3 separate regions of the Homo sapiens genome follow, and all the other regions are linked to region 3. The links come from fine-mapping of genetic effects on gene expression. A gene starts in region 3. Each other region holds a variant in brackets. All regions are shown on one strand. Distances are between the middles of the regions.

What was found. PIP is the estimated chance that this variant, and not a neighbour inherited with it, causes the effect. A credible set is the group of variants that fine-mapping cannot tell apart.
Region 1: its variant is the best candidate, but not a certain one, in a credible set for the expression of PARP3 in lung (TOPMed, PIP 0.53).
Region 2: its variant is the best candidate, but not a certain one, in a credible set for the expression of PARP3 in whole blood (TOPMed, PIP 0.81).

The regions. Positions count from the first base shown.
Region 1 is chr3:51,401,127-51,407,762 of GRCh38, reverse strand. DCAF1 (DDB1 and CUL4 associated factor 1) reads left to right here. Exons shown (of 25, transcript NM_001387579.1): 24 at 4,368-4,620. Among named protein-coding and RNA genes, the nearest start is that of RBM15B, 13 kb to the right of the region's middle. The variant C/T (reference allele first, on the strand shown) is at 3,890.
Region 2 is chr3:51,903,075-51,909,710 of GRCh38, reverse strand. IQCF1 (IQ motif containing F1) reads left to right here and starts at 6,358. Exons shown (of 4, transcript NM_152397.3): 1 at 6,358-6,441; 2 at 6,622-6,636. The coding sequence starts at 6,439. RefSeq lists an enhancer at 6,601-6,636. The variant G/A (reference allele first, on the strand shown) is at 3,718.
Region 3 is chr3:51,937,962-51,944,588 of GRCh38, reverse strand. PARP3 (poly(ADP-ribose) polymerase family member 3) reads right to left here and starts at 2,226. Exons shown (of 11, transcript NM_001003931.4): 1 at 1,881-2,226; 2 at 1,051-1,235; 3 at 372-500; 4 at 11-199. The coding sequence starts at 1,233. It overlaps RRP9 (ribosomal RNA processing 9, U3 small nucleolar RNA binding protein), which reads left to right and starts at 2,685. Exons shown (of 15, transcript NM_004704.5): 1 at 2,685-2,808; 2 at 3,098-3,180; 3 at 6,385-6,494. The coding sequence starts at 2,722. RefSeq lists enhancers at 2,221-2,550, 2,675-3,323.

The DNA of each region.
Region 1 (6,636 bases), 540 kb after region 3:
GCCCACCTCGGCCTCCCAAAGTGCTGGGATTATAGGCATGAGCCACCGCGCCCAACCTGGTGCCTGTGTTTTTAGAAATCAGTTCATTCATCTTTGATTTGACTTTTAGAAAAGTTACAAAACCCAAGATAAGTAATTGATCATTGCTCCTAGATTTTGACAAGCCAATACATTTTAGCTAATTATACTTAACCTTAAATTTATAATAAAAAACTCAACAAAGGAATAATGCTCTCTGTTTTCCACTCCATTTTGGAGTCTGGGACACACTGTGTGCTGTGCTTCCTGTGTGTTCTCCACTGCCTAGAAGCGGATGTTAAGAGTCTTTACTGATTACACACACCTGGTCAGAGCTGAATGTGTTGATTCCTGAAAGGCCTCATTTTCTTAAAGAATTGAAATGTAACTTGAGTTAGATTCTGCCATTGAGGAAAGAAAAACAAACATTTATGACCCTAAAGTGAACCTATAGCCTTTAAGGACAGAAAAAGTATTTTTTAAAAAGTAGGCATTTATACATTTAGCAAAATATGACATGTTACATAAAGGTCAGGATCAGATTTGAATGACGGTTTTGTTGTTGTTTTTTTTTTTTTTTTTTTTTGAGATGGAGTCTCACTCTGTCTCGCCCAGGCTTCCGCCTCCTAGGTTCAAGCAATTCTTCTGTCTCAGCCTCCCAAGTAGCTGGGACTAAAGGCATGTGCCACCACACCCGACTAATTTTGTATTTTAGTAGAGACGAGGTTTCACCCTGTTGCCCAGGCTGGTCTCGAACTCCTGACCTCAGGTGATCCACCCGCCTTGGCCTCCCAAAGTGCTGGGATTACAGGTGTGAGCCACTGCGCCCAGCCAAAGTGTAGGTAAAAGGCATCTGAAGCCTATGTAGATGGAGAGCTTATTAGGTTTGGGAGAACTGAACCTCTTGGCATAGAAAGTGAGAAGCCAGTGTGAAGGTGGTGGTGAGGTGGGGATGAGAAAAGTGTCTGTGGTAACAGGGTCTCAGGGTTGGTTGAGATCCAGAGCAGGAGTGGGTAGCATGCTTCCTCCTCAGACCAGGGCTGAAGCCAGGTTTAGATGTAGAGGGGACCAGAGAGCAGCGGAGGGAGCTTATGCCAGTTGACCTATTTTCTGTAAAGGAAAGGGGTGAGTTGTTTATCTGCAGGGTTTGGGGGCTTTGGGTAACCATGAAATTGATGTAGGTGGAATTAAGGAGAGAAGAGTTTTAGAATTCTTTCTGTAGAGAAATTTATTAGTACCTTAATTTAAAATGGCCTGGCCCTGAATTCCTCTAAGCCCTAAAAGAAGTCTTAGAGAATTAAAAAAAAAAACAATATCCCTGGATCCAAAACATTTTCTAAATGTTGTCAGAGTTGAGTCAGGATTCTAGAAAAATTTGGTTTTTTTTTTTTTTTTTTTTTTTGAGACAGAGTCTTGCTCTGTTGTCCAGGTTGGAGTGCAGTGGCGCGATCTCGGCTCACTGCAAGCTCCGCCTCCTGGGTTCATGCCATTCTCCTGCCTCAGCCTCCAGAGTAGCTGGGACTACAGGTGCCCATCACCACACCCAGCAAATTTTTTGTATTTTTAATAGAGACGGGGTTTCACTGTGTTAGCCGGGATGGTCTTGATCTCCTTACCTCGTGATCTGCCCGCCTCAGCCTCCCAAAGTGTTGGGATTACAGGTGTGAGCCACCACGCCCGGCCTGTTTTTGTTTTTGTTTTTGTTTTCAAAGAAATGGGATCTCACTCTGTTGCCCAGGCTGGAGTGCAGTGGCACAATCGTAGTTCAATGTAGCCTTGAATTCCTGGGTTCAAGTGATCCTCCTGCCTCAGCTTCCTGAGTAGCTGGGACTACAGGTGTGTGCCGTTGTGCCCAGCTAAGCTTTGCTTTTTCATTAAATAATTATTTTTAGTTTTTACTTTTTGGACCACTCATTATTGGAAGCTTTATTCTTTAGATCTGAAGGAGAGGGGTTCATGCCACCAGTTACTTGACCAGCAGAGAATGCACCTAAAATTGCTTCCTAGAATCTCTTTTGGGTTCTGCCACAGCATTTTGGATGAGTCTTGTGAGCCTCTGCTTCATGATCCCAGTTTCAGATTTAAAATTTGGAAAGTGAGTTTATGGCTATGTCCATGTGTGACAAAATGCATGGTGAGAAATCAGCATTGGGCATTAAATACAAAGTAGAGACGACAAAGTGAGGTGCTCAACTTGAGATTCAGGTAGATCTCTTTCCTACTAATTTCCCCTCCTCTCTCTCATGGTCACATATGTGTTTGTGGCCTTCTGGGATGAATATATATACATCTGTTTCTTCTGCTATAAAATTAAGTAAAATTTGGGTTTGTCTGCTGCTGGAAGAGTTTGGAATGGTATCTAGTTCAAAGCTTAGACCCTGCTTGAAAATATTCCAGGATTGCTCTTGATATGGAAGCTTTTTGTTCAGTTCTTCTAGATCAGCTAAGCCTCAATGTTCTTCAAAATGAAAGAGAATTGTCTTCATGAATTTTCTGGCTAGCCCATGCCTATTTGAGCAGTTTAACCTTTCATGTACACACTCAACCGTGGACCTTTAGTTGTGCTATCTTAAATTTTAAATATAAGTGTTCTGTCCACGAAGCCTTAAGACACAGGGCCCTGGGTACTTTCTTCCTTACTTATTTTTAACTGTGGCACTTTGTTAGTGGATTAGCTAATTTTGGTCAAGTCTATGAAAATACGCCTGGAAAAAGAGGCAAAAGTTGTAATCTGGTAAGCACTTGGATGATATCCCCTGAATTTTGACCCCGCTCTCCTTTCCCAGTTATTTGTATGAGCTTATGTGCTTGTAGGGGCTGAGAGCCTGTCTGTGTTTCAGTTTATCATTGTTGACTCCAGACACTCATAGTTCCTTTGAGGCGGGTGAATGCTTAGTAGTTATTTATCCACTCACCTCTGGAGGGGATGTGTGGCCAAGGCTTTGGAATAGTCTCAGGCCTTCTATGTGTGTGTGTGTTGGCACATACACAAATGCTCCCACCGAATCTGGTACAGACCATACACGCACTTGCACAAGTATTAGGAGTACTAGGTATTTAAAAGGGGCTCAGTTTTTCCAACATAACTGGCAGAAATTTTGAAGAGTCTAAATTACTGAATTACACAGTTTATCAAAAAGTCACTAATGGTGGTTCCAAAATTACCAGAAGTCCACAAAGCGGAGCTACCCTGCTGAATGATCCTAGCTTATGTTACACACTGGTTTCTAGTGGCTGGGTAAGCACAAAATGCTTGTTTTTTAAGTGCTTGGCAGGCAATAACACCTTCAAAATGAAAAAAGATGTAACCACTGAGTATAAGTTTTAAAATAATAAGAACAAAAAAAATTTTTTTGTGCTTACGTTGGGCTTATTCCATCTTGAATTTCATTAGGTTGATGTATTAAATGAATTTTACATTTTATTATTGTAACAATTAGAATCCTTTGCTATTGGCAAGGCTGACAGTTGATGTTTGAGCAGAAAGATAAGTGTCTTGAGTGGCAGCTACGTTTACTTGGAAATGCCTCTTATCCCTGTCAAAGCAAAGAGGTATCTTTGTGTCCTCTCCCTTTTGAAGGGAAACAGTTGGGATTCTAATGCAAACCTGAAATCTGTGGCAGATGCCAGAATGTACCATTTACAAAGCCCAGAGTCCCTAGAACAAAGTATTTCATTGATGTTCTGGTAATTTTCTTGCCTTTGCAAGTTCTTGTAAGAATGGAAAGAAAGATAGTTTCTCCAGCATACTTTTTTTTCTTTTTGGCTTATGACAGGAAATATGGGTTTCTGTTAGTGTTCTATATTTTAAGTCTTTTGTTGCAATGTTGTTCTGATCAAATGTTTGTGATAGCATAGTTAGGAGCTTATC[C/T]ACATTCTTGGTTAGAAGATCAAGGGCAAGAGCTTGAAGGGCTGAGGAGATAATGAGCAGTTGTGTTCTTCCATTTTGTTAAAGCATTGCATTTTAGATTCCAGGTAAAAGGATTTTTTCTAGTGTCTCAGCTGATTTCACTTGCTTTGGTTGATGCAGGTGAGAAAGAAGAGTCCCCTTGGGCTCCTAGAATATTGAAGGCAGAGACTTCTGTGAAGCGAGTTGTCTGTTTCCTTGCATAAGGGCTATGTGACCATTAATCCTTGTCTGAGGGGTGCTTTGACCGTCTTGAGGGACATGTGTGCCTATCTCAGCCATCACTGACAAGTCTGGCTGGCTCATGAAGTCTGTGCTCGTCTAGATCACTACTACCCTCTACTGACAGTTTCCTACCCTGTCTCTTTGGTCGACCCGCCATGTGGCCCCCATGGGTCAGGCCTCTGTGTTTGTACTAATGAACATTACGCTTTCTTACCAGGAAGAGGAAGAACAGGAGGAAGAAGATGATGATGAAGATGATGATGACACCGATGATTTAGATGAGCTTGACACTGACCAGTTGCTGGAGGCGGAGTTGGAGGAGGACGACAATAATGAGAACGCAGGGGAAGATGGGGACAATGACTTCTCTCCCTCTGATGAGGAGCTAGCAAACCTTCTAGAGGAGGGAGAGGACGGGGAGGATGAAGACTCTGATGCAGATGAGGAGGTGGAACTGATCCTGGGGGACAGTAAGTATAGGGCAGAGTTCAGGCTGAGCCTTGGCACCCAGGGCAAGATCCCTTCTTTTGTGCCCATACAACTTAGAGGGCAAGCCATACCACGGTTCTGTGCCCCATAATTTGATTCACTACTCTGGTCTCTTGAGGCAAAGCACCTTTGCATCTCTGCCCTCCTCTCCTGTCAGACTGTGGAACCCAACCAAATGGCTGTCATTTCTTATCTTTCAAGTAGAGATTGGCAGACTTTTTCTGTAAGATCAGACAGTAAATATTTTATGCAGCCGGGCACGGTGGCTCACGCCTGTAATCCCAGCACTTTGGAGGCTGAGGCGGGTGGATCACCTGAGGTCAGGAGTTCGAGACCAGCCTGGGCAACATGATGAAATCCTGTCTCTACTAAAAATACAAAATTAGCTGGGCGTGGTGGCACATGCCTATAATCCCAGCTACTTGGGAGGCTGAGGCAGGAGAATCGCTTGAACCTGGGAGGCGGAGGTTGCAGTGAGCCGAGATCGTGCCACTGCACTCCAGGCTGGGATAATAGAGTGAGACTCCATCTCAAAAAAAAAAAAAAAAAAAAAAAAATGCTTTGTAGGGTATATGGCCTTTGTTGCAGCTCTTCAACTCTGCTGTTGTAGTGAGAAAGCAGTCATAGACAATCCGTAAATGAATGATTGTGGCTGTGTTCTAATAAAACTTTGTTTTGCAAAAATAGGTGGTGGGCTTGTAGTTTGTCAACTCCTGCTTCAGAGGATTAGCCTTAGAATGAAAGGCCAAAGTGTAGCTCTCCGCCGAGAGGCATGGCTAGAATCAGTCAGAAGCAGCCCCTCATGGGGTGCTGTTCTTTTTGGGGTGAATTATAAAGAAATGCAGGCCCTCTTGTGGAGGAGCCCTTTCCTGTCTCCCTTTGGCTAATCCCTCCTAACAGCCAAGGGGAAAATATTTTCCCTTTGGCTTCTGGTTTATTCACTTCCTTTTATTTACCTTTTTTTCTTAATCCAAATTTTGAGGAACAAACTCCAGTTCTTCTAGTTATTTCCCATTAGGTTTCTGAAGTCAAGTTGTCCCCTGACTATGGTAATGAATCCTGCAGAAATCAGCAAATAGTTCAAAGAGGCTGTTAGCTCTGCAGCTGTACATGAATCTTCTTACCAAGGCTGTATTTTGAGGAAGCTTGAGGGTGGGAGGGTAGGGGAGTGTCTTCTATATGTTCATCTGCTGTTCATCAACTTCTGTTTTTTCATACTTGGAGGCTGAGGTGATTCAGTGGAGTAGGCCGAAGCCTGGTCAGACAAAGTTTTAATGAACGTTTTTGTCACGTGTGAATAGTGAGACATGGGAAACAAGTTATACCTCCTTTCAATTACAAGTAGTTAGCAGGGCAGGTTCGCAGGGTCAGCAAACAGCAGGCCAGCTGATGGTGGTGCTCCCAAAATAAGAGAGCATCACTTTAATTTTTCCATTCTTAATTTGAATATAAAGCCACTCAGTTTGTATTTGGCCTGTACAATTACTGCCTCTTTTAGCTGTTGAGGAAATTCCTTCTTTCAAGCCAAAGGTAATCTGGAAAACTTTAACTCTATCAGTTGTGAGAATGTTGTTACTTTATGAGAATATTTACGATGTGAAAATAATGGATCACAACTTGAGGACGTCTCAGAGTGGACTTCAGAATTGAGGTGGAGATGCAGAGGTGGCATCTGGAGCACACTCCATGGCTCTTTCTGTGTTTCATAGAAGAGCCAGCTGCTGTCAGCAAGGAGAGCATTCTTAGCACCCATGGTTTTGCCTAACACTAATCCTTTAGAGCAGTAGCTCTGAACCTTACTGGGCTTATGAAGAGCCCTTTTAGGATAGGGTGAAAGCCATAGAAACTATAGAAAACCACACCCATGCGCCCCCACGTACCTTTACGTAGGCCCTGGAGTCTGCAGGGACTCCCTGATTGCAGATGCAGAGCCCTGGCCCTAGGAAGAGAAACAGCTTGATTCTGAGATCTTTTTTTTTTTTTTTTTTTTTTGAGAT
Region 2 (6,636 bases), 35 kb after region 3:
CCTGCCTCAGCCTCTGAGTAGCTGGGATTAGAGTCACATGCCACCACACCCAGCTAATTTTTGTATTTTTAGTAGAGATGAGGTTTCACCATGTTGGCCGGGCTGGTCTCGAACTCCTGACCTCAAGTGATCTGCCCATATCAGCCTCCCAAAGTGCTGGGATTACAGGCAGGAACCACCTGGTTTTTTAGAAACAATTTTCTTTTCCCTTGATTTTTATCAATTTCATTATTGTCCCTATATGTAGTTTTCTTTGTATTTATCATGTTCGTATAATTTTTTGACCTGCCTTTGAGTTTGATAATCCTTTCTTTTGTTACTCTCTCTAGTGAACTATTCATTTTGGGTATTGTATTTTTCAGTTTTAGAATTTCAGAACTAGGCATGGTGGCACGTGCTTGTAGTCCCTACTACTCAGGAGTGTTTCTTGAGCTCAGGAGTTTGAGACTAAAGTGGATGATATAACAACACCCTGTCTCTTTAAGTAGAAAAAAAAATTGCATTTCTTGTATTCTGTTTTTTAGAGTTTCCATTTGTCTGCCAAAATTCTCCATCTTTTTATTCATTTTTTTCTACCTTTACCTGTAAATTATTTTCGATTATATGTCTATTTATATAATCTTTGTTGTTTCAAAGTCTTTGCTAATTCTAACATATGAGTCATCTGTGAGTCTGCTTCTATTGCTTTTTTTCCTTTTGATTACAGGTCACATTTTTCTGCTTCTTCATGTGTCTCATTTTTAAAATTGTATGCAAACACTAGATAAAAGCAGTAGAGACTAGGGTGGGCCATTTTTCAACTAATCAGGAGTTCAGTTAGGTTGGGGCTGTTTTGACACTTTAGTTGGTTTGCATCCCCCTCAGTTTCAAATGTCTTGAGGCTGGGATCAGGCTCCTTTCTCCAGCAAAAGTGTGGAATATTAGCACTGTGAGACTTGAGAGCTCTCTCTGCTGTCCAGGCCAGCCCCTGGCTCCCTGTGCTGCTGTGGGTCCAGCAGAAGTCCCATGGGAGGGAATGGTGGCAGCAGAGGACTCACTGTGTGTGTGTGTGTGTGTGTGTGTGTGTGTGTGTGTGTGTGTGTGTGTGTGTGTGGCTTTTCCAGATTCCAAATTGTCTTGCAGCTCGCATGCAACCATTGAAAGTTCAAGTTCAGCTGGTTTCTCCCCATCACAGCATTTCACTGCATATGGCGGGCTTACTCCTGCAGGTCCTTGTGTCCAGAGATTTGGTACATATCCACAGGCATGAAAGCAGCCACTAACCTCCGTGCAACTAGACAGGGACAGAGCCACTTTAGAATTCAGTTTTAGATGCTCCATACCTACTGCTATGTGATGTTTTAAGTTTGTCAGGTGTTTTCTTATTGTGCAGTTGTTGCGGGAGTATTTTGTGACCCTCTGCATCCTAACTGGAGGTGGAGCCCTCTGACATTCCCATGCAGTGGCGTTTCTTCCTCCTTTCTGGCTACTCTGGAGGGAAGCCCTTCCATGCCCAGACCAGCCTTTATACGTTTCATTTCCTCTCTTGATGTTGCCAGGGCTTTTTATTCTTCACAGGATGTGAGTTACCCCATATATTCTGATCAGTAATTAGATTTTTGATTTAAATTTTCTATCTTTTTTTTTTTAAAGACTGGGTCTCGCTCTGTCACCCAGGTTGGAGTGCAATGGTGCAATCATGGCTCACTGCAGCCTCGACCTCCCTGGGCTCAGGTGATTTTCCCACCTCTGTCTCCCAAGTAGGTGGGACTACAAATGCACACCACCATGCCTGGCTGATTTTTGTATTTTTTGTAGATACAGGGTTTCGTTATGTTGCCCAGGCTGGTCTCAAACTCCTGGGTGCAAGTGATCCACCTGCCTTGGCCTCCCAAAGTGCTGGGATTACAGGTGTGAGCCACCACACCTGGACTTTTTTGTCTTCTTCTCTCTCAAAAAACCGATGCCCACTACTTAGGTCGTGAGGAGTTTGGGGTTTATTCTTCCAGATAATGAAGCACAAGGCTTTCATGAGTATGTGTGTGTGTGTTGGTGGGGAGGTGTAGGGAGTGTTGGGAGTTGGGGGAAGTAAAAAACTGACTAGTGTTACAACAAAGGCCTGTATCCTATTATCCTCAAATGAACACATATCACACCTTCTCTGTCACACCCTCTATTAGTCCATTTTCAGGCTGCTGATAAAGACATACCCAAGACTGGGCAATTTACAAAAGAAAGAGGTTTAATTGGACTTACAGTTCCACATGGCTGGGGAAGCCTCACAATCATGGCAGAAGGCAAGGAGGAGCAAGTCGTGTCTTACATGGATGGCAGCAGGCAAAGAGAGCTACTGTAGGCAAACCCCCATTTTTTTTTTTTGAGACGAAGTTTCACTCTTGTTGCCCAAGCTGGAGTGCAATGGCATCATCTTGGCACACTGTAACCTCTGTCTCCCAGGTTCAAGCGATTCTCCTGTCTCAGCCTCCTGAGTAGTGGGATTACAGGCACAAGCCACCATGCCCAGCTAATTTTTTGTATTTTTAGTAGAAACAGGGTTTCACCACGTTAGCCAGGCTGGTCTCGAACTCCTGACCTCAGGTGATCTGCCCGCCTCGGCCTCCCAAAGTGCTGGGATTACAGGTGTAAGCCACCACGCCCAGCCCAAACTCCCATTTTTTAAAACCATCAGATCTCATGAGACTCATTCACTATCACAAGAAAAGCGTAGGAAAGACCTGCCCCCATAATTCAATCACCTCCCACCAGGTTCCTCCCACAACATGTGGGAATTGTGGGAGTTATAATTCAAGATGAGATTTGGGTGGGGACACAGAGCCAAACCATATCATTCCACCCCTGGCCCCTCCCAAATCTCATGTTCTCACATTTCAAAACAAATCATGCCTTCCCAGCAGTCCCCCAAAGTCTCAACTCATTTCAGCATTAACTCAAAAGTCCACAGTCCAAAGTCTCATCCGAGACAAGGCAAGTCTCTTCTGCCTATGAGCCTGTAAAATCAAAAGCAAGTTAGTTACTTCCTAGATATAATGAGGGTACAGGCATTGGGTAAATACAGCCATTCTAAATGGGAGAAATTGGCCAAAACAAAGAGGCTACAGGCCCCATGCAAGTCCGAAATCTAGTGGGGCAGTCAAATCTTAAAGCTTCAAAATGATCTACTTTGACTCCATGTCTGATATCCAGGTCATGCTGATGCAAGAGGTAGGTTCCCATGGTTTTGGGCAGCTCCACCCATGTGGCTTTGCAGGGTACAGGCTCCCTCCCAGCTGCTTTCATGGGCTGGCGATCAGTGTCTGTGGCTTTTCCAGGTGAACAGTGCAAGCTGGATCTACCATTCCGGGGTCTGGAGGACAGTAGACCTCTTCTCACAGCTCCACTAGGCGGTTCCCCAATAGGGACTCTGTGTGGGACCTCTGTCCTTACATTTCCCTTCCACACTGCCCTAGCAGAGGTTCTCCATGAGAGCCCAGCCTCTGCAGCAAACTTCTGCCTGGGCATCCAGGCATTTCCATACATCCTCCGAAATTTAGGCGGAAGTTCCCAAACTCCAATTCTTGACTTCTGTGTACTCACAGGCTCAACACCATGTGGAAGCTGCCAAGGCTTGGGGCTTGCACCCTCTGAAGCCACAGCCTGAGTTGTACATTGGCCCCTTTCAGCCATGGCTGGAGTGGCTGGGACACAGGCCACCAAGTCCCTAGGCTGCACACAGCACAG[G/A]GACTCTGGGCCCAACCCATGAAACCATTTTCTCCTGGGCCTCTGGGCTTGCGATGGGGGGCTGCTGTGAAGGCCTCTGACATGTCCTGGAGACATATTCCCCATTGTCTTGGGGATTAACATTTGGCTCCTCATTACTTATGCAAATTTCTGAAGTCGGCTTGAATTTCTCCTTAGAAAATGGGGTTTTCTTTTCTATCACATTGTCAGGCTGAAAACTTTTTGAACTTTTATGCTCTGCTTCCCTTATAAAACTGAATGCTCTTAACAGCACCCAAGTCACATCTTGAATGCTTTGCTGCTTAGAAATTTATTTTGCCAGATACCCTAAGTCACCTCTCTCGAGTTCAAAGTTCCACAAATCTCTACAGAAGGGGCAAAATGTTGCCAGTCTCTTTTTGGCGACATAAGAGTCACCTTTGGTCCAGTTCCCAAGAAGCTCCTCATCTCCATCTGAGATCACCTCAGCCAGGACCTTATTGTCCATATCACTATCAGGCTTTTTGGTCAAGGCCATTCAACAAATCTCTAGGAAGTTCCAAACTTTCCCACATTTTCCTGTCTTCTTCTGAGTCCTCCAAACTGTTCCAAGCTCTGCCTGTTACCCAGTTCCAAAGTTGCTTCCACATTTTTGGGTATCTTTTCAGCAACACCCCACTCTACTGGTACCAATTTACTGTATTAGTCCATTTTCAGCTGCTGAAAAGACATACTGAAGACTGGGCAATTTACAAAAGAAAGAGGTTTAATTGGACTTACAGTTCCACATGGCTGAGGAGGCCTCACAATCATGGTGGAAGGCAAGGAGGAGCAAATCACGTCTTACATGGATGGCAGCAGGCAAAGAGAGCTTGTGCAGGCAAACTGCCTTTTTTTTTTTTTTTGAGATGGAGTCTTGCTCTGTCGCCCAGGCTGGAGTGCAGTGGCATGATCTCAGCTCACTGCAAGCTCTGCCTCCCAGGTTCATGCCATTCTGCTGCCTCAGCCTCCCCAGTAACTGGGACTACAGGTGTCAACCACCACACTTGGCTAATTTTTTGTATTTTTAGTAGAGACGGGGTTTCACCGTGTTAGCCAGGATGGTCTTGATCTCCTGACCTCATGATCCTCCCGCCTCAGCCTCCCAAAGTTCTAGGATTACAGGCATGAGCCACTGCACCCAGCCCAAACTCCCATTTTTAAAACCATCAAATCTCTTGAGATTCATTCACTATCATGAGAACAGCACAGGAAAGACCTGCCCCCATAATTCAGTCACCTCCCACCAGGTTCCTTCCACAACACATGGGAATTGCGGGAGTTAAAATTCAAGATGAGATTTGGGTGGGGACACAGAGCCAAACTATATCACACCCACAACTTCCCACATCTTTCAATGTATTCCCATATTCTCCACCCCCTCATCCCATTAACTTCACATCCCAGCCTCAAATGGCCTCCTCCTCTTCCCTACATTCCCCCTACAGATCCACATTGGCCTCTCCCATACTCACCCTATACATTTCAAGTGCACTTCTCAGTGACCCCAGGGGCTGTGCCTCTCATGGCCTTACCCTGTCCAGCTGGGTCTTCAGAGGCCGAGATCAGGCAGAAAGGGGCCATGCTTGTGCAGTGGCCACCTTCATCCATCTGATTGTGGCCTTGAGACCCCAGGGACAGAGGAAGACAGGAGAGCACTTGGACCCATTTGAGCCTCAGATGGAGTCCAGGCTGGTCCTCAGGCCCTCATGGGGTTCCTTGGGGACTGTGTTAGGCATGAGTCAGCAATTTAACTCTCCTCTCCAAAGGTAATCATTGGTAATAGTTTGGTATATATACCTTTTTTCTTCTTTATATTCATTTACAACATATAATGTGTATCATGTAATAACTTCTGGCATAAATTATTCAATTTTATGTGTATAATTATGTTCCTAGTTTTGTTTGCATAGTGGGATCAAAAGGAACTTTAGTTTTTTACTTATAAATACATCTTTATATATTTCCTCATTAGTAATATAGATCAAATTCTTATTTTTAATAGTTATGTAGTATTTTATAGTATGAATGAACTATGCATCATTAAATTAATCCCCTATTGATTATTTAAGTTGGCTATATAAGTTTTTTCTTTTCTTTTTTTTTTTTTTTTGAGATGGAGTCTTGCTCTCTTGCCCAGCCTGGAGTGCAGTGGCATGATCCTGGCTCACTGCAAACTCCACCTCCTGGGTGCAAGCGATTCTCCTGTCTCAGCCTCCTGAGTAGCTGGGATTACAGGTGACAGCCACCACACCCAGCTAATTTTTGTAATTTTAGTAGGGACAAGGTTTTGCCATGTTGGCCAGGCTGGTCTCGAACTCCTGACCTCAGTTGATCTGCCTGCCTCGGCCTCCCAAAGTGCTGGGATTACAGGCCTGAGCCACTGCGCCTGGCCAAGTTTTTTCAATTAAATGTTATTAGAAATGACTGGCTTTTTATAAACCTTACAGCAATGGGCCAGTATTTCTGGCATCTTGCCTTTGAAGTCAGGGCTTTGGCCATTTCTGGCAGAAAAGAATGGGCAGCGCTTTTGTCTTTCCCTTGGAGGGGGCTCACTTGTTAGGAGCCATCTGGTGCCTGAGTCACAGGTGCCCTTATGACATCACAGGCCTTTCTTCCTCCACCCTTCCTGCCTATGCTATGGCTGGATGAACACAGATGTGAGGGGATTTGAACCATCTACAATCAATCCATATGTGACCAATGGTAAGAGAAAGCCAGACACACCAGGCTTGTTAGGGATGTCCCCATAGATCTCTCAGGGTGAAGGGACCCCCTGACACTGAAGACTCTAAGAAGCCCTGGAAGCTGGGGATGTGTGCCATATTGAATGGAGAGGGAGGGACCGCAGCCTCACTCTTGCCTTTCCCCTAATGCTGATTGCAGGAGGAGAAGCAGCCC
Region 3 (6,627 bases):
GCCATCTCACCTTCACCACAGCTTCCTGGGCCTCATCCTCTGCCTGTACTTCGATAAGTGTGTACTTGCCCGGGTGAGACACAAAGTGGTCCCGCTCTGCCCAGTTGTTCTTGGTCTTTTCCCGAAATTTCTTCTCAAAGTCCTTCTTTGCATCTTCTAGCCTTGTGAAGTGGTTGATCTTTGACTGGCCGACCTCTCCCTGCAACCGACAGCCTTCAGGGGTATGCCCACCATCAGCATTTGCTGGCCTGTGTGTCGGGCCAGGCCCTGTGCTGAGTGCCCTGGGACAGTTGGGAGGTGCCCCCCCAAGTCAGTAGCTGTGGCCTTTTGAGGACCCTGGGGAGTATGTGCAGAGCAGGCAGGGCACTCACCACACGGCCCCAGCGGTTCCAGCAGGTGAAGAAGCGGTTGCTGTCTTGGAGCAGCTGGATGATGTAGAACTTGTTGTTGTTGTTCTCGATGTTGGTCTGGTTCAGGGTGCAGTTGTAGTCCTCATACACCTGGGCCAGAGGGGAGGTGGGGGGCAGGCTGGCTGGGGTCAGATGGGGTGCCTGGCCGTACACCGAGAGGGCTCTGATGGGGACAGGAGTCTGACGGCAGTGGGAGTCAGAGGGACCCTGTCTTGGAAGCTTGGGGGGGTCACTGCTCTTCCCTAGGGGATGCGGTGTGAGAGGACATGGCTAAACCCTGACATGGAGGTATGGGGGGTGCTGGGGGGGACACAGCTGGGCCCTGGATGGGGGAATCTGAGAGGGACATGGCTCTGCCCTGAGGGGACATGGGCAAGCGCCCAGGAGACTGATGTAGTCACAGCCTTTCCCTAAGTGCGGTGGGAGGAGGCCTGCATGGGGTCTGAAGGGCAGATGTGACCCGCCTGGACCTGACGGGACACAGCCCTGATGTCTGGGGTCAGGAGAACATGGCCTTGCTCTGGCGCTTACCTGGGGGCCTTGGGCTCCAAAACCAGAACAGAGTCCTAAGGGGGTGGCCTGGGTGTGTTTGTGCTTATCAGTGGGCAGGCTCTGGGCCTGACTGGGGACTGCAGCTCACCTGGGTCCCGGGGTTGCTGCTGAGTGGACATGTTGGATCCACGCGGATTATGCGCTTCTCTGCGGGTATGGCCTTGAGGGCCTCAGCGGTGGAGCGGAAGGGGTCCTCCTCCCTTCCTGCCTGCCGGCCCTTCTTCTTCTCAGGGCCCTCAGTCTGTACCCAGGGCTTCGGCTTTGGAGCCATGGCTGTCCTGGGGCACAGAGAGGCCCTTAGGCCTCCATGGTCTCCTCATCCCCAACGACCCACTCTCAGTCCCCACCCCTGCCCTGGGCCAGCACAGCACCAACTTGCCCCACCCCGGGTTGGCCCTTCGGTGGCCTCCCACTGCATCCTGTGTCCACTCTGACGGCATTCCCAGCCCCAGACCACACCCAGCTCTTTGTCACTCAGAAACACCCCTTTCCCCAGTCCCAAGTGCAAGGTTAGGACTCTGTCCAGTCTGCCCACTCTGGTCAACAGGGTCTGCCTGGCTCCCTACCCTCTGCAGCTCACCTGTGTGTCCTGAGGGGTAGGGAAAGTGAAAGGAGGCTCTCTCTCTTCCACTTCGGGGCTCCTCCCCCTGTGTCAGCTAGTTCAGCCCTGGCATGGTTGCCGGGCCGAGTCACCGAGCTATGGGGGAGGGTGGGCAGAGGATCCTGGGGGCAGGATTCTTGGGGCCAGATTATCCTCCCGGAGCTTAGAACCCAGAGCTGTAGAAGCCCTTCCCAATGGACTCAAGAGTTCTGAGGAGCCAGAACTCCGGATCAGTGGCCTTGAACTGATAGAGGGCAAAGGCCAGTCCCACCAGGCCTTGCCCTGCCCTGCCGTGGGCAGGACCATAGGACACTCACCCAAGAAAAGCAGGGACATGGGAGAGGTCCTGGCTGCCACCCGGCCTGGTTGTGTGCGCCTCCCAGGGCAGTCCCAGGTCTAGCAACTCTCCATGAGCCTCAGGCGTGAATTAGGGAGAGAATTCCCAACAATCGCCAGAGGCCGGGGATGAGCTTGTGTGGGGGATTAGACATCGGCTATTTGGCCACCAGTGGGGTGAAGCAGAGGCTGGGGCAGGCCGAGTCAGGCGACCAGTCCCACGGACGGGTGGACACTCGATCTGGCATATCCAAGGCCGGGGCAGTCGCGTCCGTAGCGCTGCTCATGTGGCCGGGGCCTGCAGCACGCATCTGCCGGTCGCGCGGTGACCTTGGGCCCGGATACAGACGCAGCCTCCCTCTCCCCGGGGCTGCTTGGATCCCCGTTGGGTCTAGCGCCGGGCTGCCCATGGAGGGGAGGAGTCACGTTCCAGAACGCGAAAGGGCGCCGCGTCTCTGGCGCCCCCCAGCGGCCAAGGGGCGCAAACACAGAGAAGGCTCTTGCTCCGACTTCGAAGTGGGCCAGCAGCAGAGCGCAAGCGCCACAGCATCAGGCCGGAAGCGCCGTGGAGATGCGGGCTTCCTACTCGAGCCTGGTGCGGGAGCCTAGGAACTTCAGGAGGCGGGGCTACAAGCGTGCATCCTATGGGTGCCTGGGGGCGTGGCAGAGCCTGCAGAAGGACCCAATGGAGCAGTAGGAGGCGGGGCCCGGCGGGCGGTGGAAGCCTATCAATACGCGGGGTCTTGCCAGGCGGCTGGGGAGCTGGGAGGGTTCAGCTGCCACGTGAGTTCTGCGGCCGCTGCTACACGCCTGGTGGGCAGCATGTCGGCAACAGCGGCTGCTCGTAAGCGGGGAAAGCCGGCCTCTGGGGCCGGGGCTGGCGCGGGGGCCGGCAAGCGGCGGCGAAAGGTGAGCATGGCGCTTCTGAGGGCCGCGGTCAGCCCTGCTACTGGGACAACCGTCATCCCATCCAGGGGACCTGGGTCCCGGCCCTTCCCCAGCCCTTCGCCCTGGACCCCTGCTGGAGTCAGCTTCGTCCCTCTCTCCGCGGGCCAAATCCTAGAAAGCCGTTCGCTTAACCCGGGAACCACCGCCTTCCCCATTCCTGGGGTTCTGAGGGAACCGAGGGGGGGGGGCCCTTGGTCAATGCCAGGGTGGTCTGGACCCCTGACCAAAGAAAAGACCGTATAATTCCCAGGCCGACTCTGCGGGGGACAGGGGCAAATCCAAGGGTGGCGGCAAGATGAATGAGGAGATCTCCAGCGACTCTGAGAGCGAGAGGTGAGCTATTCTTTTCCACATAGTGGGAGGGAAAACTGAGTCCCATGGTGCACGGAAGACTGAGTGAGTCCGAACAGAACTGAGCCTAGAATCCAAGACTCTGTCCCTTGGCTCTGAGATCGTGGCTGTTTCCTTTAGTTTCTGGTCCTGCAAAGTCTTGTTTCTGCGAGGTCTCTGGGTGGGAAGGACCCTGGGCCCCAATCCGAGGCCATTGAGACCTCCTTAGGTTTTGGCAGGGACTGGACTGATTGAGAAATTGCAGGAAAACAGAACAAAGCTGTCAAGTATTTCTTGCATCCTTCTTCCCTTGCCAGTTTTCCTGCAATTTCACAATTACTGGGCTCCCCGTCTCTTAACATGCCAGGCACTGCCTTTGCTGTTGGAAGTGCAGAGATAGGCAGGCGGGTGAAGAGAGTGTGTTGTAGTGAGGTGTGTATTTTATAGTTGTGTGTTCTGGGAACAGAGGAGGGACATTTAAATAGGGTCTTGAGAGATGAAGAGGAGTCTCTCACGGAGAGGTAGGGAAGGCATTCAGTGATCAGAGGAAAGTCTGAGGTGTAAGTGTGCCAGAATGGGCAGTAGAAAAGATGAAAGGGGGCTGGGCCTGGTAACTCATGCCTCTAATCCCAGCACTTTGGGAGGCCAAGGCGGGAGGATTGCTTGATGTCAGGAGTTTGAGACCAGCCTGGGCAACATAGCGAGATCTTGTCTGTACAAAAAAAAAAAGTTAGCTGGGTATGGTGGTGTGCACCTGTAGTCCCAACTACTCAGGAGGCTAAGGTTTGGGGATCCCTTCCCAGGGAGTTGAAGCTGCAGTGAACTATGATCATGCACTGCTCTCCAGTCTGGGTGACAGCAAGATCCTGTCTCTAAAAAAAAACCACACACAAAAACAGGAGGACTGGTCATAAGTGCATGTAGATTGTAGAGGGCTTTGGATGCCTCCCTCATTTCTGCAGGTGATGGGTGTGGTTGCTTGCAGGTTTTCAAAGGGTCAGGCATGGTGTCAGGCCTGACCCTGTGGGTTGGAGGCTCTTGGACCAGAGAATCCTAGTGCCTTCCCTATGAGTTGACTTTAGAACTCGCTTCTAAAATTGAGTATGTGTTGCCTTAATTTGCTCATGGAAAGAATGTACTTTTTTTTTTTGTTTTTGAGACAGAGTCTCACTCTGTTGCCCAGGCTGGAGTGCAGTGGTGCGATCTCGGCTCACTGCAACCTCTGCTTCCCAGGTTCAAGTGATTCTCCTGCCTCAGCCACCTGAGTAGCTGGGATTATAGGCCTGCACCACCATGCCTGGCTAATTATGTATGTTTAGTAGAGATGGAGTTTCACCATGTTGGCCAGGCTGGTCTCGAACTCCTGACCTCAAGTGATCCGCCCATCTTAGCCTCCCAGAGTGCTGGGATTATAGGCGTGAGCCACCACACCCAGCCATTAATGTACTTTTCTTAATCCGAAGGTTATTGTGGGTGAGTGTGTGCCAGGCTAGTGTGGGCTAAGTGCTTTTAAATATTTTTAGAATGTTGTGTTGTGAAGTGTGTTAGATACAGAAAAGTGAATGAGATATATTTGCACTACAGAGAGTAATGGTAAAATGGTAAACCTCTGTACACTTACTTACCACTTAGGTTAAGAACTAGAACATTTGCAGAAACTTAGAAGCCGCAACTGTCATTCCTAACTTGAGTTAATCATTTCTTTGGTTTCTTTGTTCTTCTTTTAAAAAATTAACATTTTCCATTTAGGTATAATTTACATATAGTAACATGCCCTTTTTAAAGTTATAGTTCAGTGAGTTTTGACAAACACACACAGTTGTGTGACCACCTCTACCCTGAAGGTAAAGAGTTTCATCACCCTCCAGAACTCCTCCTGCTCCTTCGTAGTCAGCCCCTCTCCTTCCCCCCAAGTCTCTGCTAACCACTGCCCCTAGAGTTGTGCATTTTCTAGCATGCCCTGTAAATGGAATCATAGTGTGTACTTCCCTTGCATTTCTTTAGCGTTCTGTCTCATGCGTATGAATCCTTCAACAATAGATTAATTAGTTTGGCTAAATTGAGTAGAAGTCCGAAGTTAACACAGGTCCCTTGGCTGTGTAAGGGAAGGGCAGCACTAGCCCTGTTGGCTGAAGGCTTGCCAGGCACAGGGCACTAAATTATTTCTGGGGCATGGTCCAGCTTTGGCTTTCCTGAGAGTTTTCAAGGTCCCTTCTGGGGAAGTCAGGGGCAGGTTTACGAGTGAGTCTTGGGAAACACGGTTAGGGGAGTGGACAGAGACTAGATGTCTTCAGGCACATGATCAGAGGGAGTGGGCTGCCTTGGATTCTCTGTGTCTGAGTGCCCATGACCTACCCCCAGCTCCCAGGAGCAGGTCAAAGCAGCACCTGTCTTTGGGTGAAGTGAGTACTCTCAGCTGGTCCGGGGGCTGGGGCATGGAGGGGAAAGCCGTAACTTCACCAGTAAAGGCCAATCCCCAAACAGTGAAGGTTCGCTTGGAACCTTGTTCCCAGGGTAAAGGATGGTGCTGTGGTGATGACAGTCCTGGTGTGTCTGCCTGGTGGGTCCTTGGATCTGATCCAGACTGCCCCCGTCATGTCTGGGGATAGTGTCACCCTTTCTGCTCTCTTGTGTCGCATCTCTGGTTTCCGGTATCCCTTGCCTTTCTCTTTCCCAGTTTACCCTCTTGTTTGGGAGCACAGCTTCTATCCTTCCTAAAGAAAAAGAGGGAGAAAATTCCATGGCACCTTGCACACCTGGCAGTGTCGTCGTTGATTGTTTGACTGGGCATGGCATTTTAGGGGTCAGTGTATTCCTCCAGAGCTTTGTGTGTGAGGCTTCTTTGTCTTCTTGTTCTCAGTATTGCTGTTGAGATGCCTGCACATTTTGATTCCTGACTCTTTGTATGTGACCTGATTTCTTTTGGAAGCCTGGTTTCTCTTGGAAGCCTCCTCTTTCCCCCAGAGTTGAGAGGCTTTAGTGATCTCTTTGGGATTTGGGTCTGTTTCCACCCCTACGTGGGGCACTGAGTGGGGCCTTTTAGTTTGGGGAGTCACATCCTTCAGTTTTCTGCAGTGTAGTCACCGACCATGTGGGCTAGCAGGGAATAGGGGAGGTTGGATGGCAAGGTGAGCATCCAGAAGGCACGATCCTAGCGGTCAGAGGAACAAGGTGAGCCCCTCAGACCCAGCCCCTTCCTGCCCACAGCCTAGCTCCAAGGAAGCCTGAGGAGGAGGAGGAGGAGGAGCTGGAGGAAACTGCACAGGAAAAGAAGCTGCGCTTGGCCAAGCTCTACCTAGAGCAGCTCCGTCAGCAAGGTGAGCCAGTGGGCAGGCCAGCCATGGGCAGGGCTTCTGCCTGTGCTGGTCTGCTGCCCGCCGCTGCAGCCCCAGCCACTTGATGGGTGACTGACATGGATTCCCAGTGGGTGCCCAGGCTGTCAGTGCTGGC